7 linked regions of the Homo sapiens genome follow. The protein of the gene in region 4 purifies or fractionates together with the protein of the main gene of each other region. This does not show direct contact. Each region holds a gene or a part of one and is shown on either strand. Other genes may lie near its edges. The genes, in order: MRPL14, KIF1A, VDAC3, COX15, LAMTOR3, MYO6 and TOP2B.

What was found.
Region 1: the proteins of COX15 (region 4) and MRPL14 fractionate together in Homo sapiens (co-fractionation; one large-scale study listed by IntAct). This does not show direct contact.
Region 2: the proteins of COX15 (region 4) and KIF1A purify together in Homo sapiens (affinity purification with mass spectrometry, with the first as the bait; one large-scale study listed by BioGRID). This does not show direct contact.
Region 3: the proteins of COX15 (region 4) and VDAC3 purify together in Homo sapiens (affinity purification with mass spectrometry, with the first as the bait; one large-scale study listed by BioGRID). This does not show direct contact.
Region 5: the proteins of COX15 (region 4) and LAMTOR3 fractionate together in Homo sapiens (co-fractionation; one large-scale study listed by BioGRID). This does not show direct contact.
Region 6: the proteins of COX15 (region 4) and MYO6 purify together in Homo sapiens (affinity purification with mass spectrometry, with the first as the bait; one large-scale study listed by BioGRID). This does not show direct contact.
Region 7: the proteins of COX15 (region 4) and TOP2B purify together in Homo sapiens (affinity purification with mass spectrometry, with the first as the bait; one large-scale study listed by BioGRID). This does not show direct contact.

What each region holds. Positions count from the first base shown.
Region 1 is NC_000006.12:44,117,070-44,121,166, reverse strand, and holds part of MRPL14 (large ribosomal subunit protein uL14m isoform a precursor), read left to right. Parts: intron 1-4,097. UniProt on the Homo sapiens protein: Forms part of 2 intersubunit bridges in the assembled ribosome. Upon binding to MALSU1 intersubunit bridge formation is blocked, preventing ribosome formation and repressing translation.
Region 2 is NC_000002.12:240,817,261-240,821,961, reverse strand, and holds the start of KIF1A (kinesin-like protein KIF1A), read left to right. Parts: upstream 1-1,742; 5' UTR 1,743-1,840; intron 1,841-2,684; exon of another isoform or gene 2,685-2,856; intron 2,857-4,701.
Region 3 is NC_000008.11:42,394,563-42,398,659, reverse strand, and holds part of VDAC3 (non-selective voltage-gated ion channel VDAC3), read right to left. Parts: intron 3,577-4,097; coding exon 3,527-3,576; intron 1,983-3,526; coding exon of another isoform or gene 1,980-1,982; intron 1-1,979. UniProt on the Homo sapiens protein: Non-selective voltage-gated ion channel that mediates the transport of anions and cations through the mitochondrion outer membrane and plasma membrane.
Region 4 is NC_000010.11:99,714,689-99,718,785, reverse strand, and holds part of COX15 (heme A synthase COX15), read left to right. Parts: intron 1-285; coding exon 286-440; intron 441-2,306; coding exon of another isoform or gene 2,307-2,324; coding exon 2,325-2,438; intron 2,439-4,067; coding exon 4,068-4,097. UniProt on the Homo sapiens protein: Catalyzes the second reaction in the biosynthesis of heme A, a prosthetic group of mitochondrial cytochrome c oxidase (CcO). Heme A is synthesized from heme B by two sequential enzymatic reactions catalyzed by heme O synthase (HOS) and heme A synthase (HAS).
Region 5 is NC_000004.12:99,887,519-99,891,615, forward strand, and holds part of LAMTOR3 (ragulator complex protein LAMTOR3), read right to left. Parts: intron 1-4,097. UniProt on the Homo sapiens protein: As part of the Ragulator complex it is involved in amino acid sensing and activation of mTORC1, a signaling complex promoting cell growth in response to growth factors, energy levels, and amino acids.
Region 6 is NC_000006.12:75,747,761-75,752,038, forward strand, and holds the start of MYO6 (unconventional myosin-VI), read left to right. Parts: upstream 1-1,478; 5' UTR 1,479-1,663; intron 1,664-4,278. UniProt on the Homo sapiens protein: Myosins are actin-based motor molecules with ATPase activity. Unconventional myosins serve in intracellular movements. Myosin 6 is a reverse-direction motor protein that moves towards the minus-end of actin filaments.
Region 7 is NC_000003.12:25,654,646-25,658,742, reverse strand, and holds part of TOP2B (DNA topoisomerase 2-beta), read left to right. Parts: intron 1-4,097. UniProt on the Homo sapiens protein: Key decatenating enzyme that alters DNA topology by binding to two double-stranded DNA molecules, generating a double-stranded break in one of the strands, passing the intact strand through the broken strand, and religating the broken strand.

The sequences.
Region 1 (4,097 bases), on a different chromosome or scaffold from region 4:
AGAGTGACATTGCTTGTAAAACAACCATTGTATATAGACTAGGTCTGAAGTGATTCAGGGTCTGTGTCCATAGGGTGGATTTATGCTAGGAAATAATATCAGGGTCCATCAGAGTTGCTTTGAAGTAAATTGCTGCCTCCATTGCTCTTCCCTGATCTGAAACAGTTATTTTAGTGGTGGGATCAGGCATTTTCCATAGTAGGCAGTGTAGGCACCAGGCCCAGGAGGTGAGTCCAGGGGGCCTGGAAACAAAGCACGGGCTAATCCTCCATGATTAGCACCATCATTCTCTTACAGCATGTTTGCCTGACATGTCCTGATTCCAAAAATACAGATAAGAGCTCTGCCGTTTCTGGATTTACCTCCGTCAGAGCCATGGGGGACCTGTCTTTCTCCTGGCTACCTCATTTATTTTATTCAACAAGTATTTATTGCACTCCTACTGTTATCAGGACTGGCTGGGGTCTTTTGCTAGGGTGGAAGAGGAGGGTATAACAGTTTGTTTTTTTGGAGGGATAAGGGACATATATACAATAAGTGAATATTTGATTCTTTTGTGCTTTCAAGTTCATAGGAATGCTAACTGCTGGCCATTTGATGTCTGAGTCCTTTGGGTTTAGGTCTAGACGTCAATATCAGATCCACTAAAAAGCTAGTGAAAAGTCACTGAATTGGGAAGTGCTTCCTAGAGACATGAATATATCACTCTTGGGTTTGAGGGCAGTACAGGTAATCCTTACCATCGAAGTCTGTGTGGCTCCTGAATTCCTGTAGCACGTTCAGTTGCCATGTTGTCAGAATATCTGGTTTCTGAATTTTGGATAGTGAGTGGGAAGAAATAGAATGTTAAAGGACATCAGACTTATCTCAAAGTATACAAATTTACTCATTGTGGGTGTTTGGATAGTGAATATTGGTTCAGTGAGTGTTGCACTGGCACAAGGATGTCCCAGTGTTCAGGAGGGGTAGCAATTGATGCTGCCGTTTGACACAAGACTTTGTGGAGGAGATGCTTGTGGAGCTGGGTCACATTTGTCTGGGCAGAGATGAGTGTTGGTTGTGGAGATGGCTTGTGAGCAAGGTGCAGAGAGGAGGCCTGAGTTTGTGTTTGTGCACTGACAGCCTTACAGAGTGTAGGGAGGTGCTTTGTGATGATACCTGAGTCAAGAAAGTTCTGGGAAGCCCTTAAGTGCTTCTGCAGTTCTTGGACTAATGTCAGTGTTCTTGAGGAAGCAGTGCGGTGTTGAGAGGCAGGGTGTTGCACTTCTCGGGAGAGGGAATGTGGGTGGTGCTGGGTTAATCTTGAGGGTTCTGTGGCGTTGTTCAGGACGCTCTTCTCTCTCAAGGAGCCAAGGACCTGCCAGCATCAGATGGGAACAGCTTGGCAGGGATTTGAGTTAACTGCAGCCTGGACCAGAAGGACTCTGCTTTTCAGAAGTTTTGTTTTGTTGTTTTTTGCTAGTTTTTAGTTATTGCTCTGAGTATTGATCTCTTCTTGCCTCCTACACTACAAATTGTCTTCAAAACTTAAAGTGAATAATTTTCACCTGATATGTGTCTACATTTCAGTTGATTCAGCAAGCACTGAATTGGCTGTGAGTAAAATGTGCATGTGACGTCAGTATTCTTTTTTTTTTTTGAGATGGAGTCTCACTGTATTGCCCAGGCTGGAGTGCAGTGGCCCAACCTTGGCTCACTGCAACCTTTGCCTCATGGGTTCAAGTGATTCTCCTGTCTCAGCCTCCTGAGTACCTGGGACTACAGGCGGCCGCCACCATGCCCGGCTTATTTTTGTATTTTTAGTAGAGAAGGGTTTCACCATGTTGGCCAGGCTGGTCTCAAACTCCTGACCTTGGCCTCAAGTGATCCGCCTGCCTTGGCCTCCCAAAGTGCTGGGATTACAGGCATGAGCCACCGCGCCCAGCTGACGTCAGTATTCTTGATGGAACAAGAATGATTTAATAGTTGTAAAATATTAATATTTAAATTAAAGTTGCCATGTTTACTCTGTTGAGTAAGAGCATGGGTTTAGGAAGCCCACAACTGGGGTTCATATTTCAGCCTAGTCATTCCTAGCCATGTGACCTTGGGCAAGTTATTTAACCTCTCTGGGCTTTATTTCCTTGTGTATAACAATGAGGCTAATAATAATTGTACCCATTTCATAGGGTTTTTTGAGGTTTATTTTATTTATTTATTTTTGAGACGGAGTTTTGCCCTTGTTGCCCAGGCTGGAGTGCAATGATGCGATCTCGGCTCACCGCAACTTCCACCTCCTGGATTCAAGCGATTCTCCTGCCTCAGCTTCCTGAGTAGCTGGGATTACAGACATGTGCCACCACGCCTGGCTAATTTTGTATTTTTAGTAGAGACAGGGTTTCTCCATGTTAGTCAGACTGACCTCAAACTCCCGACCTCAGGTGATCTGCCCACCTCGGCCTCCCAAAGTGCTGGGATTACAGGCGTGAGCCACCGTGCCCGGCCATGAGGTTTAAATGAGATAGTAATGTAAGACACTTAGCCTGCTGTGTGACACATTGTAACCATTTGATAAGTGTTCATAAATAAAGAAACAGAAAGAGGCCAAATGACCCTTAAAGCTGCTTGACACCCAGGGCTCTCCTGTGAAATGAGCTTTGGTATAGCAGAGCAAGGCTGCAGAGTGCGGTTGGAACACTCTTGGACTGAACCTGGATCCAGTTCTGTTTCTGCCCTTGACTAATTGTGGGACTCTACACAAGTCACTTAATCTGCCTGTATATCAATTTTCTAATCTTTAAAATGATATATGACATCATGATGATGATAGCTAATAGGTAATGAGTGCCAGGCACTGTGCTAAGTGCTTTGCATGGCTTATCTAATTGAATCCTCATAACTACCTTGGGGGCAGATACTATTAGTATCCCTGTGTTACAGATGGTAAACCAAAGCTCAACAGTTTGGTTACTTGTCCAGGGTCATCTCACCAGTAAAAGTAAAGCTAGTCTCATTTGGTAGTCTGTGATTCTCTGTGTGTCAGATGTTAGTAGTTGCATACATTAGCTGCCTTCTTTTGCATTTGATTTTTCTGATCATAATTACATTTTGGCTGATGCTTCATGGGTTGTCTTAAGGAAAACATTTGGGAGTAAGTTTGGGATTTGAGGCTAAATTGTAGTTAATAAGCATTTAAAGGCCAGGTGTGGTGGGTGGCTCACACCCATAATCCCAGCACTTTGCGGGGCTGAGGCGGGAGGATTGCATGAACTCAGGAGTTCAAGGCCAGCCTGGGCAACATAGTGAGACCATCATCTCTACAAAAAAAAAAAAAAAAAAAAAAAAAACACAAAAAATTAGCCAGGCGTCCTGGTGCATGTCTGTGGTCCTGACTACTTGGGAGGCTGAGGTGGGAGGATCACCTGAGCTTGGGGAGTTCGGGACTGCAGTGAGCTGCAGTTGCACCACTACATTCCAGCATGGGTGACAGAGCAAGACTTGTCTCAAGGAAAGAAAAAAAAGTATGGAGTGTCTAGGTATTCCTGGGGAGGAGTGGATTCCCCTGCCCCACCCTAACATTCTTATTAAATAAAATCTTATCTGAGGTGGTTTGAACTTGTGCATAGCAAAGCTGTGTGTAAATACTACAGTGTAGAGGCTTTTCTCGGCAGACCTCTTGAATGGGCACCTCTGCTGCCAAACGTTTGGGTGGAAAAACAGGTGTGTTTTGCAGCTGGCTACAGGCCTTTCTGAAGCATGCTCTGAAGTGATGTTCAGGTGTTTCAGGGCACTGGCAGCCTCCATATTTGTTAGTGCTAGGGAGCAACAGGGTTGAGATTCTGAAAACTGGAGTCACAAGTCTTGGGTTGGTGTTTGCTCTTTTAGCTAACTCTTCAAGTTGGTTTCCCAAAGCCCACTTTCAGCTGTAGTATGGTGTAGGTCAGTTTTCCATGTTACAGTGTTTGGGAGACTGACCCAAATAAAGACTTTGGTCTTTGACTTGGCAAGAGCAGCCTTTGGCTTTGCTTTGCTGGCCTTGAGCTGTACAGGTGTTCTGGCCTTTACATTTGGGGGAAAGGTGATGTAGTGATAGACAACTTGGGTGGCTGCTTAGATAA
Region 2 (4,701 bases), on a different chromosome or scaffold from region 4:
GGGTGGATGGCTTGACCTCAGGAGTTTGAGACCAGCCTGTGCAACAGGGCAAAATCCTGTCTCTACAAAAAATGCTAAAATTAGCTGGGCGTGGTGGCACACACTTGTAGTTCCAGCTACTAGGGAGGCTGAGGTGGGAGGATTGCTTGAGCTGGGGAGGCTGAGGCTGCAGTGAGCCAAGATGGCACCACTGTACTCCAACCTGGGAGACAGAGCAAGACCCTGTCAAAACAAACAAACAAAACCATAAAAAGCCAGAATATAAAGAAAAAAAGATATGCTAGTCATTTAAATATTAACGTGAAATAGATTAATTCCTAGAAAAATGTCTATTGCCTCGAGAAATAGAGAACTTGCCAGATTAAAAAGCATGAGGAAAACGGAGGTGATAAAGACCCCAGCCCCAGAAGCCCAGATGGTTTTATTGTTTCTGCCAGGGTTAGGAAGAACAATTGATTTCTCTTTCATGCCGGCGGTTCCAGGAAATAGTGAAGGAGGAGGAGCTGTCTAGCTGGTTTCGGCGGGGCTGGGGCTGGGAGTGGGGGGCCCGTGTCTTGCAGAAGTGGATGTGAATCTCCCCCAGCCACCTGCAAGGCGCTCGCACGCAGCTGTCGGGACTGAGGTGAAGCCGGCTCTCCCAGGAGTGTGGATGAAATGGTTAACGGCGAGGCCGCTAGGGCAGCGCAGGCCCCTGCTGGGCGCCAGGGAGGCTTAGCCAGGCGACGCCAGGATGCCCATGGCAGGGGCTCGATGGCAGGGGCTGGGCTGGAGGGGACCCAGCCCCGGGGTTCAGGGTGGCCCGAAATCCGTGCACCCCCGCACCGCAGTGCGGGGAGGTTCCCATGGGCGAGCTGCCCAGAGGCTTTGTCGAAGTTGCCCAGCCCTGGGACGGTGGAGGGAGGACGGTGGCGCGCACAGAGATACCAGTCAGCCCCTGGAACTAGGAAGGCGGCTGGGGGCGGGTGACGCAGGCTGGGGTTTGCCGGGGTGGCCCCCGAGCGGCGTGTGACTTGGGGGTCCAAGGAAGTTAAACTGGACAGGCTGGGGTGAGGACAATGGGGGCCTGGAGAGGTGGGGCGAGAGGAGGGCGGGGGGTCCCCACGAGCCGCGGTAGAGGCGAGGCGGCGGGTCCGCGGGCGGGTTGCATCATCCGGCGGGGAGGGCCTGGGTCACTGCTGCTCTTCCCCCGGCGCCCCGGCCCCGACACAAGATGCGATTTCACCGCGCACCTGTTACACCCGGAGCCAGCATCCCTGGCGCAAGGAGCCCTCCCTCCCCAGCCCCGCCCGCCCCCCACGATGCGTCTGTCGCTGGCTCAGAGCGGGGGCAGGTGGACGTTTTACGATTTCACTCGAAAGGGGCCAGGGTGGGGGACGGCCCGGCGAGGGGTCCGCGGGCAAGTTCAGGTGCACGCGGGGCTTCGGGACGGGGCGCCGCCGGGTCCCTCCCCCGCGAGGTCTCAGGGGCACGCCGGGGGAGGGGACGCTGCGTCCGAGCCGGGTGTCGGTCCCCCACCCTCCGCGGGGCCCGCCGCGGTGTCAGCGGTGACGTCACAGCCCGGCCCCGGCCCCCTCCGTCCCCAGCCCCATCCCCGCGGCGGCCGCGTCGCCCGTCCCTCTCCCCGCGCGACAAACCAGCTGGCGACTGGAGCTCGGACGCCGCGCGCAGCCAACCAGCGCCTCGGGAGGGGCGCGGGGCGGTCCGGGCCGGGGGCGCGCAGCCCGTCACGCGGCGGCGCCGTCACAGCGCAGAGCAGCCGGCGAGCGGCAGCAGCTCCGGGCTCGAGAGCCCGCGCCCATGCCAGTGCCCATGCGGGGCCGCCGCCAGTGACGCCGGAGAGGTAAGGCCGCCGCCCGCCCGGCCTCCCGCGCCCGCGCCCCTCGCCCCGCACCTGCGCCCGGCAGCCCGCGCCCGCAGCCCGCACCTGCACCCACTGCGCCCAGGGCGGGGAGCTCCGGCCCGGCGCCCTTGTTGCCGCCCAAAGCGCAGGCACTGCGAGGCCCCTTCACTTCCAGACCTTCCTCCATCTCCGCAGAGAACAATGGGGGAAATTCAGGGGTGTCCGCCCTTCAGGTGCCGCTGGAAAAGGTCCCTTTGCCGCGATCTCGGCTGCAGCGGGACCCTCGGCTTAGGCGGGCGGGGGTCGCCCTCGGGAGGGCTCGCCCGGCCGGCGGGATCGGGATACCCCCGCCCTTCCCCGGCTATTCCGCTTCCCTGGAGAGGAGCCACCGGCGGGGCTGCGGGAGGGGCTGCGCCCAGACGGCGGGGGAGGGGAGGGATGGTGAGCGGGGCTGAGGACGCTGACGCCGCACCTGGGAGGGTGCGCGGCTGCAGCGCCTCGGCCCGAGGGGAGAGCGCGCAGGGCGGCCGGGCGCGGGCAGCTGCTCCGGTTCCCGGGGTGGGGGAGGGCGGATGCTGGAGCCGGGAGCAAAACAGGCGGGCGGGGCGGGGGCTGCGGCGTTGGGGCCTGGCCACCCGCTTCGTTGCACGGCCGGCCTGCCCATCACCCCCTCCCACGCCAGAGACCCCAGCTCCCTTCCAGAAAGACCCAGCACCTGGGAGGGGCCGCCGGCGAGCACTGCCTGCGTCTCAGCAGCCAGCGCCCCTGTAACAGGTGTGGCCCGGCGGCGAGGGAGGGGCTGCGGGGCCGCAGGGTCTAGGCTGGCGGCGCGCCCCCGGCGCCCGGGCTCGGATGACACGAAGGAACAGTGGCCGCGAAGACCTTCGCACTCCCGCTTTAAGCCGCTCCTCACGCTGACTTCCCCCAAACCAGCCGCGCTGCCCTCTCGCTGGGAAGGGCCGGGGCAGCATCCCCGCCGGGAGGGAGGGTCCGCAGGAGCGGGGCGCTGGGCGCCGGTAGGTGGGGTTGGGGGGGCCCTGCCGGCCGCAGGGGCGGGAGGGGGAGGGGAAGGAGGGAATGCCAAGTCATGGGGCCTGCTGGGCGCGAGCGCGACGTCGCCCGGCGCGGACCCGATGCGCGCCCACGTCCCCGGGAATAGGGACTTTCCCCCAGAGACTGGAGGACCCCTTCCCCAAGCGTCAGCCCTTTCCAAGGGGTGCCTGCATTGCTGGAATTAAAGGCCTGCCAGGGCAAGCGGATTGGATCTTGCGGCTGCGGAGAGGAGGCGGTGCGGAGAGGCCCCTGCCTCGCAGGGCTGGCACTGGCCTCACCCTGGGGACGCACAGCGCGACACCGTGCTCGGCTCTGCGGGACACCAGGTCGCACTCAGGCTGGCGGGGCCTTTGCCAGGGAAGCCATGCCAGCACCCTCGTGGTGTGAGAAGGCAGCAGAGGGTTTGAAGGGAAGCTCTGGGGTCCACGTGGGGGTTGGGGCTGCACCTGCGGCGGCCATTTTGCAGGTGTGGTTGGCCACCAGCCTTAGCCAGGCTGTGGAGTGGGGCAGTCAGGAGTGGGGCAGTCAGGAGTGGAGCAGATGTGGAGCTTGCGGTGCAGGGTGTGGGATGGGCCAGGGCCAGGGCTCAGGTCTGCCCTTGCACTGAACACACACCGTCTATTTAGAGGGGTTCCTTGTTTGGTTGATGGGGTGGTTGGAGTCAAGACCCAGGAACCCTCTGGACCGGAGGGATGAGGAGGGATGCGGTAAGGCCGCTGGCTGAGGGGCCCAGCGTGGGATCGGAGGAGGGCAGCCTTTACCCGGGGTGAAGTCTCGGGAGGGTGCTGGGTCCAAGGCAGGGCCCGGATGAACAGCTTCACTCCGGCTGCAGATGGATCTGAGGCCCTGCAGGTGTCCTCCCCGGGCAGGTCCGCAGGGTGGACAGAGGCTGGAATCAGTTGTCAAGGCAGGGGTCCCGGGCCGGGCCCAGGGAGGTCCCTGTGGTGAGGGCCTGCAAGATGTCTGCTGTGTGCCAGCCCTGCTCCCAGCCGGGTGCTGCCCCCCTGGGTGCCTCCTTTCCCCCTTCCCCACTGGAATGTCCCACAGACTGCCCCATCTGGGGCTCCAGCCGGCCAGCCACAAACAGGTGGAGCCTGGAGTTCTGCCCAAAGCCCAGGGATGATGCTTGGCTGGATCAGGATTAAAACTGGGGTCACTGCCCGGCCGCCCAGCCTGTGCCCCGCAGTCCTCACTGATGTCATGACTGCTGACCTTGGGCCCACCATGCCCTTTGGGAGTAGGGTAGGGCAGTCCTCCTGTGGGATTTGTGAAGGGTGGAGGGGGAGATGTGAGCTGGAGGAGGAGGCCCTGGAGGAGACTGAGGGCATCTCTTCAGGCCACTCAGCCGGGCCGGCCAAAGCAGGTGAACTGGGTGTGGTGGGGACGGGAAGGGAGACGTTCCCACAGAGCCCTGGTCCTACCAGATTGGGGTCTATGGAGGGGCTACCAGCATTAGGTCATTGGGATTTACTGAGCCCTGCACATGCCTAGCTGGCCAATCCCGTCAGGCCTGAGACCATCCGTGCACATCTATCAGTGAGCTGGGAGGGGCCTGAGCCGCTACCACGGGTGGAGAGTGGTGGGCCTGGGTCTCTGGGTGGCTGTGATTGGTAGGATGAGCACGTGGTTGTCTGCCTGCAGAGTCTGGGGACCTCTCTAGGTCATTGCCACATTCAGTGTTCTTAGGCCCAAAGGATGTGGCTCACCACCCACAATATGGGTGGCCAAAGGGACTCAAGGTGTCACCTCCCACTGCCCATCACCCACTCCATGCCCAGGAGCGTCTCTGAGAACCATGGGGGGCTGGG
Region 3 (4,097 bases), on a different chromosome or scaffold from region 4:
TATTCACTTTGGAAAGCAGTGTTCAATGTATCAAAAACAATACCATTTACTGCTTGCCACAGCCCTACTCTAGAGCAACTTCTTTCCTCCTTTCCCCTTGCTTTTCCAGTCCCTAAATATTTTAACCAGTTCTGCCAGGCGCAGTGGCTCATGCCTGTAATCCCAGCATGTTACGAGGCCAAGGCGGGTGGATCCCTTGAGTCCAGGAGCTCAAGACCAGCCTGCGCAACATGGCAAAACCCCATCTCTACAAAAAATACAAAAAATTAGCCAGGCATGATGGCACGTGACTGTAGTCCCAGCCTGAGCCCAGGAGGCAGAGGTTGCAGTGAGCCGAGATCATGCCACTTCACCCTAGCCTGGGCAACGGAGTGAGACAGCTCAATACCAGTTTCAGATCTTTCCATTACTCTACTTCTCTTATTAATATCTCTTGTTCCATATACTCTCTTACCAAATGGTAATCCTAAATTCTCTCCTTTAAAAAAGAAGTATCTTTACTGAAAACAAATGCCTTTACTAAAAAGACCAAAAATATTGTATCTTAAACATTTTACTTTCATGACCTAAAAAAAGATTATCAGTTCTCTGCTATATGTTTCAAACTATCAGTTAATTTCAAGGTCCTTAAAAATCCCAAAATACTGCCCTCCTCCTTTTTAATAGGGTCAACACTTTACTACTTCCTTTTAAAAATGTTTTTTTTTATTGTGGTAAATACATGTAACATACATTTTACCATTTTAATAATGTTTTAAGTGTACAGTGAAGTGGCATTAAGTACAGTCACACTGCTGTGAAAACTTTAATGCTTTTGTGTGCAAAACTGCAAAACTTCTGCTTAGACAATTTCAATATTTGAAAGTACTACCCATTTTTCAAAATAAAGTAGAATGCTATAATTTATCCTTCTTTCCCCCTTTCTATCCTGTCTACCTTTAAGAGTGCTTTCTATCAAACAGTTACTATGAATGAGACTCTGTCTCAAAAAAATAAAATAAAATAAAATACATCCTTTGCCCTAGTTCAGTGCCCTTTAAGTCATATGACAATAAGCAATTAGAAATGGACCTCCTTCTGGGGAAAGCAGACAGCACCTGTCACTGACAATCTATGAACTGTCAAGAAAAAACATTCTGATTGGTCCTGTTTTAGGGAGCATTTCTGAAATCCTGCCAACAGTAATGAGATGCTGCCAACCCTGACCAGTCTTTTTCACTGCCTGCAACATGAATCCTCTCCTTAACAAATGCCCTGTCCCCTAACTCTAGTTCTACAGGCAGATGAGACAACTGGGAAGTTATGTTCTGTTTATCAAACCACACAGAATGGTTTCAAAGAGAGTATCATGCTGCACATTTAGGGGAAGGCCTTAGTAAAAAAAAAATGATAACATGTTAATCATGTTTAACTGTTCACATAATTATTTTAACGTGACAATCATTTTTCTTTTAGTAGATCCAACTATCTAGTGTTTTATTTTTTACATTTACTTTTCACAAACTTGACAAGTATAACAAATGCAAATCTTAATTTTGGTGCTAGAAAAACCTTATGCACAAAATTAAGGTAGAGGGGTAGTCTACATTTCTCCCTTGTCAGCATCAATTCTTAGTTTGAAGGTCTGTCACGAATCTAAAATGCCACAGGTACAAATCTCAGAAAAAAAGGCTAGAATTGTTCTAAGTTGAGTTCCAGGCTCACGATTCACAGTTCAGTTTGTGTCTAATTTCATAATTTGGTCAAACAAGTGCAAAACACATTTATAACATGCATATAACATGCATATAGCTCTACATTAAATGCTTAGTAAGCAACAAAACAAACAAAAATGTTACTGTTAAGTAGATAGCATATGAGAAAAATATCAAGACACAATCTAAGAAATTTGGAACAATGATTGAAATTTATCCTAAATCAATACCAGAAACCAAAAGCAGCCATAAAAACAAGCATACGAATAAGCTTTTTTTTCTTACCATCTGAATGAATATTACCACACAACAGCAGCATGAAAGGGAGATAAAATTTTAGTTGATAATTTTTGCAACACAAACCTAATGAGCAAATTCTGGAACCTACACAAAATGAGAATGATTCTTCTATTTTAACAGAACTATATACACAGCGTGCCCATCTTAGTAAGGGAGGTGCATATATATTTATTTACTCCAGAGAAACCCAGGGAAAGAATGATGGTCACAAACCATGATTATACACAGTATCATTAGAATTCCACATGTCTTTGTCCTTCTAATTATACATTCAGAAATAAAATTTTCATGGGTTTGAATGGATAAATACCAAAAACGATGCAGCCAATGAGGAGAAATCAGAGTAAGGTAAATTAAAACTTAACCTACTTGCTGAGATTTATTAAATAAAAGCAATTTTTTCTGAGACGGAGTCTTGCACTGTTGCCCAGGCTGGATGGAGTACAGTGGCACGATCTCTGCTCACTGCAACCTCTGCCTCCTGGGTTCATGCCATTCTCCTGCCTCAGCCTCCCAAGTAGCCAGGACTACAGGCACCCGTCATCAGGTCTGGCTAATTTTTTTGTATTTTTAGTAGAGACGGGGTTTCACCATATTAGCCAGGATGGTCTCAATCTCCTGACCTCGTGATCCGCCCGCCTTGGCCTCCCAAAGTGCTGGGATCACAGGCGTGAGCCACCGCACCTGGCCTTTTTTTTTTTTTTTTTAAGACAAAGTCTCACTCTGTCACCCAGGCTGGAGTGCAATGGCTTGGTCTCGGCTCACTGAAACCTCCACCTCCCAGGTTCAAGAGATTCTCCCGCCTCAGCCTCCCGAGTAGCTGGGACTATGTGCGTGCCACCACACCCAGCTAATTTTTGGTATATTTTTAGTAGAGACGGGGTTTCAGAATGTTGACCAGGCTGGTCTCGAACTCCTGACCTCATGACCCGCCCACCTCGGCCTCCCAAAGTGCTGGGATTACAGGTGTGAGCCGCTGCACCCAGCCAAAAGCTATTGTTAATGATACTTTGAAAATATGCCAACATAGCCTTTACTGTAGTCTTTACTTCCAATAAAAAAAACTTTATAAACATCAGTTAAAAACTGTAGAATAATGTACATGCATACGTGCAGAAATACATTTTATTTACATATTTTGTTTCGACTAATCATGAAGGGGCAGAGTAAAGTTAATTTGTTTTTGTAAAAGGGTAATAAAATTTCCATGAACCCATTATCATGGAAGTGAGGTTTTTGGTGCCCATATACATATTCATGAAAGTATAAACATATGACATGGGTCAAAAAATATATATTCTACATCTTCTGAGTGAAAGCTGTAGTATACTCTGAGAAACACAAAAGGTCTCTTCAAAAATTCAACTTGGTTGTTTATTTTAATTGGCTAAGAATGCTGTTTAAAATCTGAGAGGACAAAGCTGTGGGGAAGACAGCATGGTGCTGGTTCAAGTAACTAGACTGTCATGATTTTAAACAGATTCCTTTAAGTTAATTATGTTACATTCATTAAAAATATATTAGATACTCACCACTCCACTACAAGACTTGGTTTTCAGGTCTATCTTGACCATGCCAAAGCCTATACACACACACACACAAAAACACAGTAATGTACAAAATGTGACATTCACTAGTTTTTGCAACTCAGAAATTATGAAATAGCCTATAGTACCTTCCATATGAAAAATGCATAGTATTTTCATTGGGTGAGAGTTCCTCAAGAAACTGAATTATAACCAAATAAATGCAGTATAATTTTCAAGCACTCAAAATGAATAAAGATATACTTTTAAAATGTAAGTTAAAGAAAAAAATAAATGAAAGGAATATGCACTATTCCAAGAATCAAAATTGCTGAAAATAGTGTGCTGCTATATATATCGTTTAAAATATAGTTAACATTACTAGTTAATAAGAAAAAATCAAATATGTACAGCACATAAATTTAAGTTAAATTTTAAAACCTAAAAAATATTTATTTAGGATCAGAATATACATTACTCCAAAGAAGTCAAAAGTTATGTTGTCACTTTCATAAAAACAATGCCACTGTTTGGAGGGAGGAAAAGTTCTACCCCCTAATTTAATTGTCCTCAGGGC
Region 4 (4,097 bases):
AGCTAATAAGCCTCTCCCCCTCCCCCCACACCACAGCCTCTACTCCACTTCTCTAGAGGAAGCAGAATCTTGGGGTGGGAGCAGGTAAGGATGCAGAGATTTGAAGTTTCCTTGGTGATTGTGATGTATCTTCTCTGTTGGAGAACTCCTGTTGCAGATATGTCTATTATTCTCTGACTGTTCCCTTAGTTTAACTCTGGGATAACAGACTTTTTCTATATCAGAACTAGTATTTGGTCTCTTCTTCCTCTCATTTTAATAAATACCATTTACCTTGGAATACAGGGGCTTTTGTGGCAGGGCTAGATGCTGGGCTTGTTTATAACTCCTTTCCCAAAATGGGAGAATCCTGGATCCCGGAGGACCTCTTTACCTTCTCCCCCATCCTGAGGAATGTTTTTGAGAATCCCACCATGGTGCAGTTTGATCACCGGATTCTGGTAAGTGTAGTTGGTGGTTACCTGCCAGAGAGCACAGGAGCCTATCATAGGCTTTGGGGTGTCAGTGAAGCACTGATGGCAACACTGAGAGGGTAGAGCAGGAACTATATTTCCTGCTCTCTTTGGAAGAAATTTTAGGACCATTTCTCTAATCTAATGTCTTTGTCCTCATTATTCACCCCTGTCCCCCTACCCCAACCCCAGCCAAATTCTAGCTTTCAGGACGTTGCCAGCTTCTTAAAAGTTCAAATGTGCCTTTTACCACTTGGCAAGTGATAACCTCCCTCAATTCTGCACGTACCTAGAAAGTCATTTCAGCAGAAATGTGGTTGAGTAGAGAAGCGAATGCGGAGACCATAGCTGCTAAGCACGTAGCTCTCGGAGCTAAACCAGAAGCTCAAGGAGCCAGGAGCTTCACCAGTACTTTTCATTCTATTTAAGCGAATATGTTTTGAGGGTCTGCTATGGGCCATTCAAAGATTGGCTTGGAGGCCTGTGTGTGATGAATTGGAGCGGGGAAAGATGAGCAGTAAGGAGACTGTGAGAAGCATAGTGCTGCTGCGTAATGCCAGGGAGAGTGATGGAGATGGGGCCTACATGGTGGGAGTGGGACTTGAGAAGAATGATGCATTTGAGAGAGAATTTAAAGGAATAGAGAGGCTGGGCATGGTGGCTCACACCTATAATCCTAGCACTTTGGGAGGCTGAGGCGAGAGGATTGTTTGAGCAGGAGTTTGAGGCTGCAGTAAGCTGTGATCACGTTACTGCATTCTAGCCTGGGAGACAGAGTGAGAGCCTGTCTCTTAAAAAATTAAATTTAATTTAAAAATAAGAGCACTGGGCGCAATGGCTCATGCCTGTAATCCCAGCACTTTGGGAGGCTAAGGCAAGAGGATCGCTTGAGCCCAAGAGTTCAAGACCAGCCTGGGCAACACAGGGAGACCTCATCTCTACGATAAATAAATAAATAAAGGAAAAGAGTTAATAAGATTGGCTGTCAGGAATAAAGGTGAAGAAAGATCAAGTGAAATCCCAAAGTTTCTTCTACAGCATGCTTGAAACATGACCTACAGGGATGGGACCCTCAGAATGAGTGTGGAGCTAGAGGTGGGAGGATGTCATCAGATGGAGGTATGTTGAGTGTGAGATGAGAGCAGCACGTCCAGAGAGAGGGGGCCAGAGGGCTCAGCTGTCCAACGGGGGCTGGGCTGAGGCATGTTACCTGGTGTGGGCTGAGTCCCCACCTGCGCACAGTATTTTAGCATAAGTAAAGCCTGGTTGAAATTGTCATTGTGGACAGCACTGAAAAGGAAATGAAGTGAAATAAATGTAGAAATATGATAGAAAACATTCTCCCTGATACCGTGGAAGAGGAAGGAGACCATTATTGCCAGTCCTGGACCCTTGTTCTGAAGAGATAGGAATGAAAATGAGACTTTAGGTCTTTTTTAGCACCAGCTGGCAGCACCAGCACTTTCTCCACTCACAGCCCAGGAAAATAATAACCCTCATGTGCTGGGGTCAGCCCTGCTTTAAGAATATAGGATTAGAGATATGGTTAGGGATAAGGATGCAAAGAATTAAAAATGAGGGGGACACCCACATTGGAAGGTGGATGAGATCACTGGGAGTGAGGGTGTATAAAGTACATACAGAATCTTAGGTGGAGCCTGGGTGATACCGACGTTTAAGTGGCAAGCAGAAGAGGATGGTGGAAGAGACAGCCTGTGGAGGAGTGATCAGGCTGGGACTGCAGGGAGGTTCTCTGTGACTGGTACAGGAAAGTACTTCATGGTTGCTGAGTGGTTCTAGAGGAGATACATGTAAGGTGAGTTAGAAACCTGGCACTTCTATCTAATGTGATAGACTCTTTCTTCCCTGCAGGGAATCACTTCAGTCACTGCCATTACAGTGCTCTACTTCCTCTCTCGGAGAATTCCCCTTCCTAGAAGGACCAAGATGGCAGCAGTGACTCTGCTGGCTTTGGCGTATACACAGGTATAAACCACTTCTTTTTGTTCTGACAGTATCCCCAATACAAAGTTAAAAAAGGGGCCGGGCACAGTGGCTCATGGCTGTAATCCCAGCACTTTGGGAGGCCTAGGTGGGCAGATCACTTGAGCCAGGAATTCAAGACTAGCCTGGGCAACATGGCAAAACCCCATCTCTACAAAAAAAATACAAAAATTAGATGGGCATGTTGGTGTGTGCCTGTAGTCCAAACTACTTGGGAGGCTGAGATGGGAGGATCACCTGAGCCAGGGAGGTTGAGGCTGCAGTGAGTCAAGATCGCACCGCTGCACCCCAGCCTAGACAACAGAGTGAGACCCTGTCTGTTTAAAAAAAAAAAAAAAAAAAAGGAAAGGTGACAGACTAGGAGAAAATATTTTCCATATTTATAATAAATTAAAAGATTAATAACCGGAAAATAAGTAAAGGACATCAATACACAATTACCACAAAAACAATGATTAATGGCCAGTAAACATGAAAAGCTGTTCAGCTTCACTTATAATCAGAGAGGAGCAAATTTAAAAAATAAGTACCATTTTGTGCCTATCAAATTGGAAAAAAGTGAAAAAAAAGATAATCAGGTATTGCCATGGGCATAGGAAAATGGATACTTTCAAATATTCCTGGTGAGAGCATGAGTCAGTACAGTTTTTTCCAGAAGGCAATTTGGCAATATCTTTTTTTTTTTTTTTTAGAGATGGAGTCTCACTCTGTCACCCAGGCTGGCAATATCTTTTAAAAGTTAAATGGGTAATTCTTTGGCCCAGCAAATGAACTTATTAGTGTCAGTCCTAGAAACAGTCCAATGCAACAAAGACCTTTTGTATGAGAAAATTCATCATAGAATTGTGATAGTGAAAAATTGGAAACAACCTAAATAGTTAAAAAACTATGGGCCGGGCACAGTGGCTCACGCCTGTAATCCCAGCACTTTGGGAGGCCGAGGTGGGCGGATTACCTGAGGTCAGGAGTTCAAGACCAGCCTGGCCAACATGATGAAACTCTGTCTCTACTAAAAAATACAAAAATTAGCCAGGCGGGGTGGCACACGCCTGTAATCCCAGCTACTTGGGAGGCTGAGGCAGGAGAATTGCTTGAGCCCTGGAAGTGGAGGTTGCAGTGAGCCAAGATCATGCCATTGCACTCCAGCCTGGCAGACAGAGTGAAACTCTGTCTCAAAACAAAACAAAACAAAAAAAACTATGGTATATCCATACTGTGCGATACTGCACAGCAGTTTAATAAGATCTCAATACATAGTGTATATTGCTAAGTGAAAAAAAGCAAGTGACAGAACAATATGTTTTTTAAAAGCACAAAACTATATATTTATTTCTCTATAAACATACTAAAGTACAAGTATGCAGAAACTGGTAACAGTGACTACTCTGGGGAACTGGGATGGATTGAAGAATAAGGGGAATTTTAGGTTTATCAATTTTGTTCGAATTTCTTTCATTGTAAGCATATTTGCTTGTGAAATTAAAAATGTGTGTATTTTAAGTGCTCTGATAGGAGGATGTGGAGGTTTGTGTGTGGTTATCCACGCCTGGCCATTTTCAATGTGAACTTTGGGTTACTGCCTTTCCTATTGCCTTCTTTCCTTTGTGACAGGTGGGCTTGGGCATCAGCACGCTGCTGATG
Region 5 (4,097 bases), on a different chromosome or scaffold from region 4:
ATCAATGTGTATTATAGAAATGTTTATAATATTTACAAGTTCATGCAGTTTATTAATAAGAATCTAAGACATAGATAACTCTCCATTAAAACTACTAATGAATGATCAGTCCATGGTACACAAAAGCATGAAAGATTATCAGCAGGGGCTATAGTGACAAAAAACAGCCTTTTTCCTTTTTCATTCATGCAAATATTAAGCGGCCAGTATTTGTGGCACTTAATACTTTGATACTATGAAAAACAGAAATAAGCACAATCATTGCCTTCACATGGCTTCCAATGTAAAAAGTGAATGTGTTACCAATAAAATAATCTCACAATAACAAACGTAAAACTAAAACTGGTGGCAAGTGTTGTTAAAAAGTTCATAGGGATATGAGAACCTAGAAAAGAGGAGGCTGATGCAGACAGACAGTGGGCCAGAGAAGGCTTTCCTGGAGGCAGTAATACATCAGCTGAGACGTTATGGCACTAAGTGAAAAGACGTGGAAAAACTGTTCCTGGCTGAAGAAACAGGGCAAAAGGAATGCAGGCTATGCAGTAATCCTTTCAGCCATGCTTACGTAAGAAGTAGTAAGCAGAACGGTCAAGCTATAGCTCTAAAGTTAGAAAGATCTGGGTTCCAGTCCAGGCTCTGCCACTTATTATTTATGCTATCTTGGGCTAGTTATGAAACCTTTACAAGCCTCAGATTAACAATTTGAAAATGGGAATAACTGTACTTACTTAGATACTGTGAAATTTAATAATACAAGGCATGTAAAGTGTAGGCTGGCACATAATTCAAAAATATCACTTATTAACTAATACCAGTGGTGTCAATTGTGCACACTGACAATGACATAATTTATCACTAAAGTACTAAGTTATCAGTGAGAATCCCTGGGAAATTAGCAATTAAGAAACATATGGTAGAGCACAAATATACTGTGTTAAAAAATATAAGGTGACACTCCTCGACTTTCAACATTTATGCAAAACCCTTTCATTGTTAACATAAATCTTATAGTCCTGTAACTATCTTATGGTATCTATAAACTACAACTCAGAGATATGTTCAATGTCCCTACAGCAACCCGGAATGATCTATTCTTTGTGTTAACTTTAATGTATTAACTAAGGAATAAGAAATACTTATATTAACCTAATGTTTAAATACTGACATTAAATTTTTTAAAATCCCATTGTCAAAAACTTTTAAGTCAGAAAAGTGTTATTAAATATGAATGGAAAATGTTACAAACAAAATCATTTGTCTTCCTTACATTAAAAATAAGAATAAAATAACTTTATAAATGACTTTTATACTATTTTTATCCTATTATTGGCATGATTTCCTAATCATTCAATCCTAAACTTATTTATAGATTAAAATATATCTCTAAGATTAATACATAACATAGGCCGGGCACAGTGGCTGACGCCTGTAATCCCAGCAATTTGGGAGGCCAAGGTGGGCAGATCACCTGAGGTCAGGAGTTTGAGACCAGCCTGGCCAACATGATGAAACCCCGTCTCAGCCAAAAACACAAAAATTAGCTGGGTGTGGTGGTGCTTGTCTGTAATCCCAGCTACTTGGGAGACTGAGGCATAAGAATCGATTGAACCTGGGTTGCAGTGAGCCAAGATTGCGCCACTGCACTCCCAGCCTGGGTGACAGAACGAGAGTCTGTCTCAACAACAACAACAAAAAGATTAATACATAAAATAAATATATTCTTCTAAGTTAAAAACTAGGTTATATAAAACATATACTACAGATATTTGTACATAAGCCAATTATTTTGTGCAGTTACCAAAAGCAACATCATTTGAAACAGTAAAGCATTACAAATCCAACTGTCCATCAAGAAGGACAAGGTAAGTTATGATATACACCTACAAAGGAATACTCTGGAATACTCTGCAGCCATGAGAAAGAGGAAGTTCTCTATGTACCAGGAAAGATTACTCTCAAAGTTACATTCTTAAGTGAAAAAATACACAGTTTAGAACAGTGTATAGAAGAAGCAATAAATTATGTACCAAAATATGCAGGCATATGTGTATGTTGTGTGTATAAATACGTGTATATACATGTCTGCTCATAGGTACATAAAATATCTCTGTAGGTAATGGTGGGTGCCTCTTTGAGGGGAAACTGTGCATGTGGCTGGAGAGGAAGGATGGGCAGCTTCTCACTCTATGTTCTTCAGTTAAGTCTTGAATCTGAACTCTGTGAATGTACTACTTACCCCCAAAATAAATTAAAAAGCAGGTAAAAAGAGGACCACAAAAATGTTTAGAAAAATTAGTGCCACCACAGGTAGCTTCTTTTTTTAAATTTCCATGGAAATTACTTTAAATACAACTAATGCTCCAAAGAAAATAAAAGGACTTTCTTTTTGATGGACTTCACAGAGAAATGAATCAAGAAAGTAGAAAAATTACTTACACTCTTAAGTATATAATTTTAGAAATCAGGTCACAAATATAAAAGCTGTTTTCAATTCTACATACAATGCGCAAAGAGTAATATAAATAGAATTTACTAATAATTAAAAATAACTGGCTCATTAAGAGATACTACACTTTTAGAAGAAATGAATTAAATTTTGTGAAATATTCTGAAGAAATCTAAACCTTAAGCTTACTAAAACAACCATTTTTTTCTAAAAACAAATGTTGCATTACTAATCAAAGACATCGGATTTAGTTTTATACACATAATTATGAAATATTTGGTTGTTTTAAAACATACAAAGTGGGATTATTAAAGCCTGAGACTGCTTTGGGTCACAACCAGATTTTAAATTGCAAATACAAGAACGATATTTTGCAGAGAATTCAAAAAACGCACAAAAACACACATTCCATTAGTATCCGTAGCTGGCTGACTTTGTTACTGAGAGGCACTGAGGTACAACAGTTAAAAGCATGAATCCATGGCTCTGAAGCAGGATGCCTGCATCCAAACCCATACATCTAGCAACAAATCAAAGCGTATATTCTACTATTCTTCATAAATGTTCAAAACATTATTATTTCTTCATTATTACTGTTCTGGGATGCAATAAGCCTATTTTCAATAAATGATATAATGAGTTGAACTGGCTTTTTTTCATTATTAAAAAAAAAACTGACAGTACTAATACCTTTCCTGCCATTATGAAAGATTTTCATAAAGCTTTTAACAAATATCCTTTAACTGAATTTATTTCTTGGATAAGCACAACAACCTGATATTTCCCCTTTTGTTAAAAGATAAGAGACATCTAAATTCAAAGAAGAAGCAAGCATTTACTTTCCAACTATTTTTGATCAACATTAGAACTACTCAGTAATATAATAAATACTTTTGGTATTATTCTCTAATTCCTTTACACAGACAGCTTCATCATATCCAGTGTCACACGCTATTATGATTTTGAGAGCACACTTAATAGTTAAAATGAGATCCCCATTGTCTGAAACATTTTTATTGCTTATAATCACAGATGATGTAATTAGAATCAATTATTGCTTTATTAGATCTCCAGGTGACTAATGAGTATCTTTCTGGTCGGTTTATAACTTAAGAACATTGAATGCAATTTTGCTGTTTCTTCAATAAGAGATGCTAACACTCAAAAGAGGACTGTAAATCACTAAGACTTCTAAGTGAATTAACTATGTACTATTAACTATTTCATCATATCACCAGCGTAGTGGGGTATCTCTCCGTCCCAATTTGAGCGCCCTTTCATTACGCTAAGGTAACTACAGAAAAACACAGAAAGCCCTCATTTTGCATAGTTCCAATATGCACATTTTAGTTACTATGGTTAAGTAATACCACTCCCTGCAGAAGAGCACAGGTCAAATTTTAGTTAGCATGGCATAATACCTCAATAACTACGTAAAGTATAAACTTTTCTAACTCTTTAGTCCACAAATCACTACATAAATAATTATGTAATTAACAGATGCACACTGTCATCAGTAACCAGCCACATCATTTCTTTCAAAGTATGTTGATGGTTGGTCACTGTGCATCTGTTATGCAGCTCATGCAGAGATAGCAAAGCATGTAGTTTTGTACCTCCTTGTCTCCCAATGATAAAGTATGTGACATTT
Region 6 (4,278 bases), on a different chromosome or scaffold from region 4:
AAAATGTATTGATTTATCTAGGTGTGGTGACTCACACTTGTAATCCCAGCACTTTGGGAGGCCAAGGGAGGGGGGCGGGCAGGGATTGCTTGAGGCCAAGAGTTCAAGACCAGCCTGGGCAACATAGCAAGCCCCTGTGTTTACCAACAACAAAAAAATTAAGAAAATTAAAAAAATGTATTGACTTCTATTGGTTTGCCAAATGAAGTTTAGTATTAAATCCAAAATTGAGTCAGAGCAGTGTGAACTGAGACAGCCATCTTCATCTTCTCCCTCTTTTTTTCAGTTTGTTTTGAAATTTAGTTTTATATACTTAAGACTTACCTTCTGGCAATTTGGAATTAAATTTCTGAGATTGCTGTAAATTATTTCCTTTCTTTGTTTCTCTTCCTCTTTCTTACTTCCCTATTTTACTCTTAATATTTTATTGTTTTAGTTGAATTCTAAAACATCTTATCAGAACTTAGAGTTTTTATTTCTCCACCCACAGAACCATGGAGTCTTTAAGTATCAGAAATTTGTCTCCTCGTCAGAATCTTCTAGATTTCCAGAAGTTTCCAAGTCGCTACATATAAATGTTGCAGAAAAACGTGTAATTCTCATGTGCAAGTAGGCTTTTTTCAGCGGATACATTTAGCATTATAGTCAATTGTTATTTCGTTGCCTTAAAAGAAGCTGTTTTCATTGTAAAGGTGATGTGTTTTTACCATATAATTCAAATTTGCATAGGTACTTCATATTTTAAAAGGTGACTCACAGGTATGTCACTAATAAAAACAGTAACATTTAAACGACTGAGAAGGTAGGGGCTCTAAATAAAGTAAATGCGTCGGCGAGGGTAGGAGCGGGAAGAGGCAAAGGGGTGCGAAATTCCCATCCCAAGCCCCCTCCTCCAAAGACCGAATGGCAACTTAGTTGTGCGGGAAGGTTCCCCCCTATGCAGGGCAGCCCAGTCCAAGCCGGCCCGATCCGGGGCCGAGTGAGCAGTGGTTCTTGCCGCAACCGCCACGCAGCCTCGCTGCCGCCCAAGCGCGGACACCTGGTTCCTGGGTCCCCCGCGCGGAGCCCCGGACTCCTCGCCCCTTCTCCGAACAACTTTCTCCCTGCTTGAACTGATTCTCGCTGTTGGTAGACTGCACAGTCACAGTATCCAGCCGGACAGGACCTGCTTTGCCGGGACTGGAAACAACTACCGCGGCAAAAGAGGCCGTTTCGCCATGGGAAGAACAAGAACTCCCGGCTTGTCCAGGGGCAGCCCCTCTCTGCGCTGCAGGGCGCCTACCCTCGCCCCAGAGGCTCTGCGCCGCGGGCGGGGCGACCCCGGGGGTCGCGCGCCCTCTCCCGGAGCGCGCCCTCCCTCCCGGAGCGCGCGCCCGACGGCCTGCCGCGGCCCCGGCGCCCCCGCCCCTTCGGGCGCTCCGTAGCCGTGACGTGCACGCCGCAGTGCCGGGGACTCGGCGGGGCGCCGGCCGGCGGGCGGAGACCGACTCGGGATCTGTCCGAGCAGGAAGCCAGCCTCAGCCCGGCCGCTGTCGCCGCCCTGTCCTGGTGCCCGTCCGCGTCGTCGCCCTCTTCACTGGCCCTCATCACTTCTCACCGCGCCCTCCAGCTTCACCCGTACAGGTAGCCCCGCCGCCGCGCACCTGCCTTCGCTCCCGCACCGGTGAGTGTCCCAGAGACCCACTGCGGGGCGTCGGCGCCGGGGTCTCGCGTTCCCTGGCCCGGCCTTGCTCCCGGGCCTCCTCGAGCAGCTCCGGGGCCGACGCTTCTGTTCACTGCCCGAGGACGCGGGTGGGAGAAGCAGGTGATGGATGGGTGGGCCCTGGGCAGCAGTGGGGCCGGCGGTGGTTCTCGTTTCCACCGAAAGACAATCAGTCTCCTTTCATGGGTTCTCATCACCAAGGTCCCTTTGTGTTTCTTCCCTGGCTCCCAGGTAGAAGCAGAGCACTCAGGTGCCTAACTCGGACTTGGACACTCCGTGATAGTTTTATTTTCTCTTTTGTAAACACGCTTAAAATTCAGTGCAGGGGGAGCGCAGTTTGCTCTGAGATGTGAAGATCAAATGATACCATTAATAGTCTAATCATGTAGGAGACCAGATCGAGACTTTCTAAAGCCTTATTCTTAGTCTCCAGGTGGTCCAGTACCTTGAGTATGTTAATTTACGGATATGCTACTGAACAAGAACTTTTTTTGTTAATTTCCAAAAACTCCCTAAAACGATTAAAATGCTTAAACTCTGGGATTTTAATTTTAAGTAGGACACAATTTGATGGGGTTATTGCTAGAACATCCGTGTTTAAAAGTATTTCCATACAGTTTAAAAAATTCATTACCTTTTTTTTTTTTTTTTGAGACGGAGCCTTGGTCTGTCGCCCAGGCTGGAGTGCGGTGGTGCGATTTCCTCTCACTGCACCCTCCCCCTCGCGGGTTCAAGCAATTCTCTGCCACAGCCTCCCGAGTAGCTGGGATTACAAGCGCCCACCACCACGCCTGGCTAATTTTTTTGTATTTTTAGTAGAGACGGGGTTTCACCATCTTGGCCAGGCAGGTCTTGAAATCCTGACCTCTTGATCCATCCGCCTCGGTCTCCCAAAGTGCTGGGATTACAGGCGTGAGCCACTGCGCCTGGCCAAATATTCTTTACATCTTACCTGGCATAAAGTGATGTGGTGGAGGGATGCTTAAATCCTGATTTACAAGTATTAGTGAGAAATGAGGAGCACTGCCCTAACTTAATAGACTTAACTGTACGGGCTAAATAAGCCTCATTTTTTTTTTTTTTTTAATGCTCTGGTGGTATAGATGCAGTCTATCTAAATAAAGTCAGAACTTGAGAGTTTTAAAAATTAACTTTTTTTTTTTTGAGACAGAGCCTCGCTCTGTCAGCTCACTGCAACCTCCACCTCCCAGGTTCGAACGATTGACCTCCCTCAGCCGCCCGAGTGGCTGGGACTACAGTAAGGGCGCGCCACTGCCCAGCTAATTTTTGTATTTTTAGCAGAGACGGGGATTCGCCATGTTGGCCAGGCTGGTCTCGAACTCCTGACCTCAGGTGATCCACTCGCCTCGGCCTCCCAAAGTGCTAGGATTACAGGCTTGAGCCCCCGCGCCTGGCCTGAAAATTAACATTCTTAAGATTTAGCTGAAACTTATCTTCACACCATAAAACGTGAATCTTGAACTTGGACTGGTAGTGGTCATGGTACAAAGGTTGGCGGCAAAACAGCATTTCTGTACAAATTAACTGAACTTCCTAGATGTCTTGGGTTGTGGTTTTCAAACTGGAGAATGTTTAGTGAAAAAATTACCTTTGTGCCTTTTTTCCTTAATTGTAGAAACCGCCACAAATGTTACAAAGTGGGCTATAGCCAGAGCTTGAAACCATGCTGCCGTTCAAAATAGCTCACAGACTTTTATATATACAGCTCATTTTGAGTATTTTACGTTACGCAGGAATTGCATCCACTTTGGTAAACAGAAGTCATTTTAGTCTTATGTACATTTGCCCATTATTTTTGTATTTTTTGTGTGACATGCTGTTTATCATTCTCTCATCTTTGTAAGTTACATTTTTGTTTTCAGAAACCATTGTAAATGTAACAGAAGTATGAATGACATTTAAGGAAAGATCATGATTAAAAACTGTATAATATATAAAACTATATATGATATACATATATATTCTTGGTTAGTGCCTAGAAACATGAGCAAGAAAAATGTTATGAACAATTACAATATTTAATGTAAATTAATGCAATTAAATATTGCATTAAAAACAAAAGATCGTAAATCATAACCAGTAGGGATTATCTGAAATGGATTTTTCCCTGTTTATGTTTACGTGGTCAAGTTTTAAAATAACAGTGGCCAGGAAATCTGAGAGAGGCTGAAGGCTCTGTTCTCATCCTGTTGTGACTTTGCCTGGAGTCTGTGGTGTATCATGTAGCCCATTGTTTAGACAACTGGGCTGTATCTGGGTTCCAAAATGTAGCTTTCTTTAGAAAGTTTTAAAGACTTTGACCATGTGAGGCTTGAACAAATGCAAACATCCAAACATTGAAAAAAACCCATTTTAACTTTCTGTTGATAGTTGAGACTCCATTTTTGACATGTAAAATACCAGTTTTAAGAAGAGTTTACTAACCTCTGTGTAGTTTCATTTTTATATATTAAAATATCTAAAAATATTGGGAAGTGTTATAACTTAAATAAATCTCAGAGTTTATTTATTCTTTTTTTTTTTTTTCTCTGAGATGGAGTCTTGCCCTGTCATCC
Region 7 (4,097 bases), on a different chromosome or scaffold from region 4:
AATCTTGGATTAGTATTAAATCTGTTTTTTTATTAGGCATTAGCAATATTGCAAAAGTGCCATAAGATAGGTTAATATTTAAAATATATAGTCTATATAGTTATTTTGGTATTTTTGTTATAATTTTAAATTTTCCCTAAATGCTTTGTTTAATTTGGCAGCTGACTTGAAATTCAGAAAAAGTCAATGATGTTATCATCATATTTATAAATGAAAAAGAATATAATTAAAACAACTTTTAGATATGTGTAGGAAATTTAATATGGTGATTATTTTACACTTTTATTGTCTTCATGATAATGAAAATGTAGCCTTGATTTTTTAGATTCCAATTTAATTGGATGCTGGCATTGTTTATTACTATCAGTAGTTTGGTAATTTGTTCACATAAATTAAGGCAGGGAAATAAATTACAAATAAACTTAACAAGTTTTCAATCGTTAGTCTCAACGCAAATTTATTCAAAATGCTTTTGGTAAATAATAATAATAATTATTATTATATATTTTTTGAGATGGAATCTCGCTCTGTTGTTGCCCAGGTTGGGGTGCAGTGGCGCTGTCTCGACTCACTGCAAGCTCTGCCTCCCGGGTTCTTGGCGATTCTCCTGCCTCAGCCTCCTGAGTAGCTGGGACTACAGGCGCCCGCCACCATGCCCAGCTAATTTTTTTTTTTTTTTTTTGAGACGGAGTCTCGCTCTGTCGCCCAGGCTGGAGTGCAGTGGCGGGATCTCGGCTCACTGCAAGCTCCGCCTCCCGGGTTCACGCCATTCTCCTGCCTCAGCCTCCCAAGTAGCTGGGACTACAGGCGCCCGCCACTACGCCCGGCTAATTTTTTGTATTTTTAGTAGAGACGGGGTTTCACCGTTTTAGCCGGGATGGTCTCGATCTCCTGACCTGATGATCCACCTGCCTCAGCCTTCCAAAGTGCTGGGATTACAGGCGTCAGCCACCGCGCCCAGCCGGTGAATTATTATTTTTAAAGGCATGTTGTTAATTTTTATTCAATGTGGAGTACTGTGAGCAATTGCTATAGAACATGATATCTTATTACTGTGAACATATAAGAATAAAAAGAGGTAAAATCAAAAGACTCTTCTGGGTCTAAAGTGAGTATAATTCTGTTAGCCTGCATGTGTCAGATATACATCACTCTCTTTTATGATCTGTAAAGTTGAGGTGCTTTTATAAACATGCAGATAGGAGTTTGCTAGTTTGTGGTTGTTCAAGGCAATTTGCTGTTCTCTTTTCTGAATATTGTCAGCAAGAGTGTTAAAATTGAAGAGCTACCCAGGGTGACATTTTTTTTAAGAGATAGAGATAGTGATGATAACAGCAAGGGAGAAGGTGCAGAATAGGTTTCTCATTTAGCTTCTCTCTTCTAAGGCCAAAGGTGGTTTGTATTAAATATGCATACCTGTTCTAGGGATGGGATCATCATATTAACTGGGTAAGTTGCCCTCTCTCCCCTTACCCCAGATTTTGATTTTTAGTGACCTGGACATTGCTCAGGGGACAACTTTCTGCTGACAAACAGGAGTTGAAAGAGACTATTATTTCAGGTTTCTGTTACAAAAACATATAAAAGTCTCAGGGGAGAACCTCCTGTGTTTGCCACTAGTGAGCCAGTGAGCAATGTAAATTACCATTTGTTGAGAATGGGAACGTAAAAGACAAATTGGATTCTAGTGTTAATTTCTACTTTCTACTCTGCCAAGGCTGCCAATCTTATTTGTGTATTTTGATTTTGTTTTTGCATAGCCTCTAGTGAGAAAGTTGGGGTTGCAGAAGTAATAAATAGGTGTAAACATTGCCTCTAGGAAAAGAAACCTTCAGTTTTATTCTAGCTTAATTATGTTTTCACATACTTGGGTTAATAAGCCTTTAACATATTTCTTTATGCATTCATTGTAGAAATTTAGAAAAGGTGTAGAAAAGATAAAAGTGGCATGTATTTCTACTCTATAGATAATTTTTATTGATATTCTGTTGGGCATATTTCACATTTTTTCCTATGCATGCATATATTATGCATAATTTTTTTCTGACAAAAATGGGCTCATGTTTTATATATACTCCTTTGTAATGCCCACTAAACAGTGCCATTTTGATAAACTACTAATTTAAACATACTTGATTATCTTTACTAATATAAATTTTCTATAAAAACTAGAGCAATAAAAGATTAACACCAATTATTTTTAGTATAGTAATTATAGACTTATTTACTCATTGAAACGTCCAAGTTTAAGGGTTTATATTAAGGATTTTTGTTTGTTTTTTATCTATTTATTTATTTATTTATTTTTGTGATGGAGGCTTGCTATCACCCAGGCTGGTCTCAAATTCCTGGGCTCAGGGGATTGATCCTCCGGTCTCAGACTCCAGAGTAGCTGGGACGACAGGCCTATGGCACCATGCCCTAGGTTTTATAAGTTGTTTGATATTATAATTGGCAGTTGATTTGAAATATCTGCAAATGACTTCCATTGTATTCTATAAATAATGTGTATCCCTTAAGGCTTTTCCTGACTTTAAATAGAATGGTATATCTTTTTCTTTCCTCAATAGTTGTCATATGATATTTAGAAAAAAGTGTATTGTCACACATTCATCACACTTATTTTACAGTATTTCTATGTTCTTCCTAGAGAAAATTACAAATAATATTAGACAAAGTCATCTACATTTCACATGTTCAATTTTTTTTGTTGTAAAAAAATACAACATTAAATTTACTGTCTTAGCCATTAAGTGTAGAGTTCGGTAGTGTTAAATATATTTACATTGTTAAGCAACAGATCTCTAGAAGTATTTCATTTTCCCAAACTGAAACTATATCTACTAAACACTAATTCCCTCTCCCCCCAGCCCTTGGTTAACCACCTTTCTACTTTCTGTTTCTATGATTTTGATTACTGTGGATACTTTATATGATTGTAATCATACAGTATTTGTCCTTTGTGACTGGCTTATTTTGTTTAGCATAATATCCTTGAGGTTCATCCATGTTATAGCACATGACAAGATTTCCATGTTTTTTGAGGCTGCATAATACTCCATTGTATCTATATACGCATTTTAAAAATCCATTCATACACCAGTGAACATTTGGGTTGCCTCGCCTTTTGGCTATTATGAATAATACCGTGATGAACATGGGTGTGCAAATATCTCTTTGAGATTTTGCTTTGAATTCTTTTGGATATATACCCAAAAGTGGGATTGCTGGATCATATAGTAATTCTATTTTTAATTTTTTGAGGAACCTCCACACTATTTCCATAATGGCTGTAGCATTTTTCTAGCATTTTATATTCTCACCAACAGTGTAGAAATGTTCCAGTTTCTCCACATCCTTACCAACAGTTATTTTCTGATGGCTGTCTTAATAGGTGTGAGGTGATATCTTATTGTGGTTTTGATTTTCATTTCTCTTATTAGTAATGTTGATTATCTTTTCATATGCTGTTGACCATTTGCATATCTTATTTGGAGAATTGTCTATTGAAATCCTTTATCCATTTGAATGGGGTTATTTTGTTATTGTCGAGTTATAGAAGCTCCTTATCTATTTTGGATATTAACCATTTGATGGTTTACAGATATTTTCTCCATTCCATACGCTGCCTTTTCACTCTGTCAGTTGTTTTCTTTGGTGCACAGAAATTCTTAAGTTTGGTGTCCTGTTTGTCTATTTTTGCTTTTGTTGCCTGTGATTTTGGTGCCATATCCATGAAATCATTGCCAAATCCAGTGTCTCAAAGGTTTTCCTTTATGTTTCCTTCTAGGAGTTTCAGAGTTTTAGGTATTACTTTTAGGTCTTTAATCTATGTTAATTTTTGTATGTGGCATGAGAGTCCAACTTCATTCTTTTGCTTGTTATCCAGTTTTCCCAGCACCATTTGTTGAAGAGACTGTCCTTTCCCCACTGTGTAGTCTTGGCATTCTTGTGAAAAATCATTTGGCCTTTTATGTAAGGGTTTATTTCTGTGCTCTCTCTTCTGTCTGTATGCCAGTGCCACACTGTTTTAGATTTCTGTTGTTCTGTAGTAAAATCAGGTTTTGAAATCAGGAGGTGTGAGGCCTTTAGCTTTA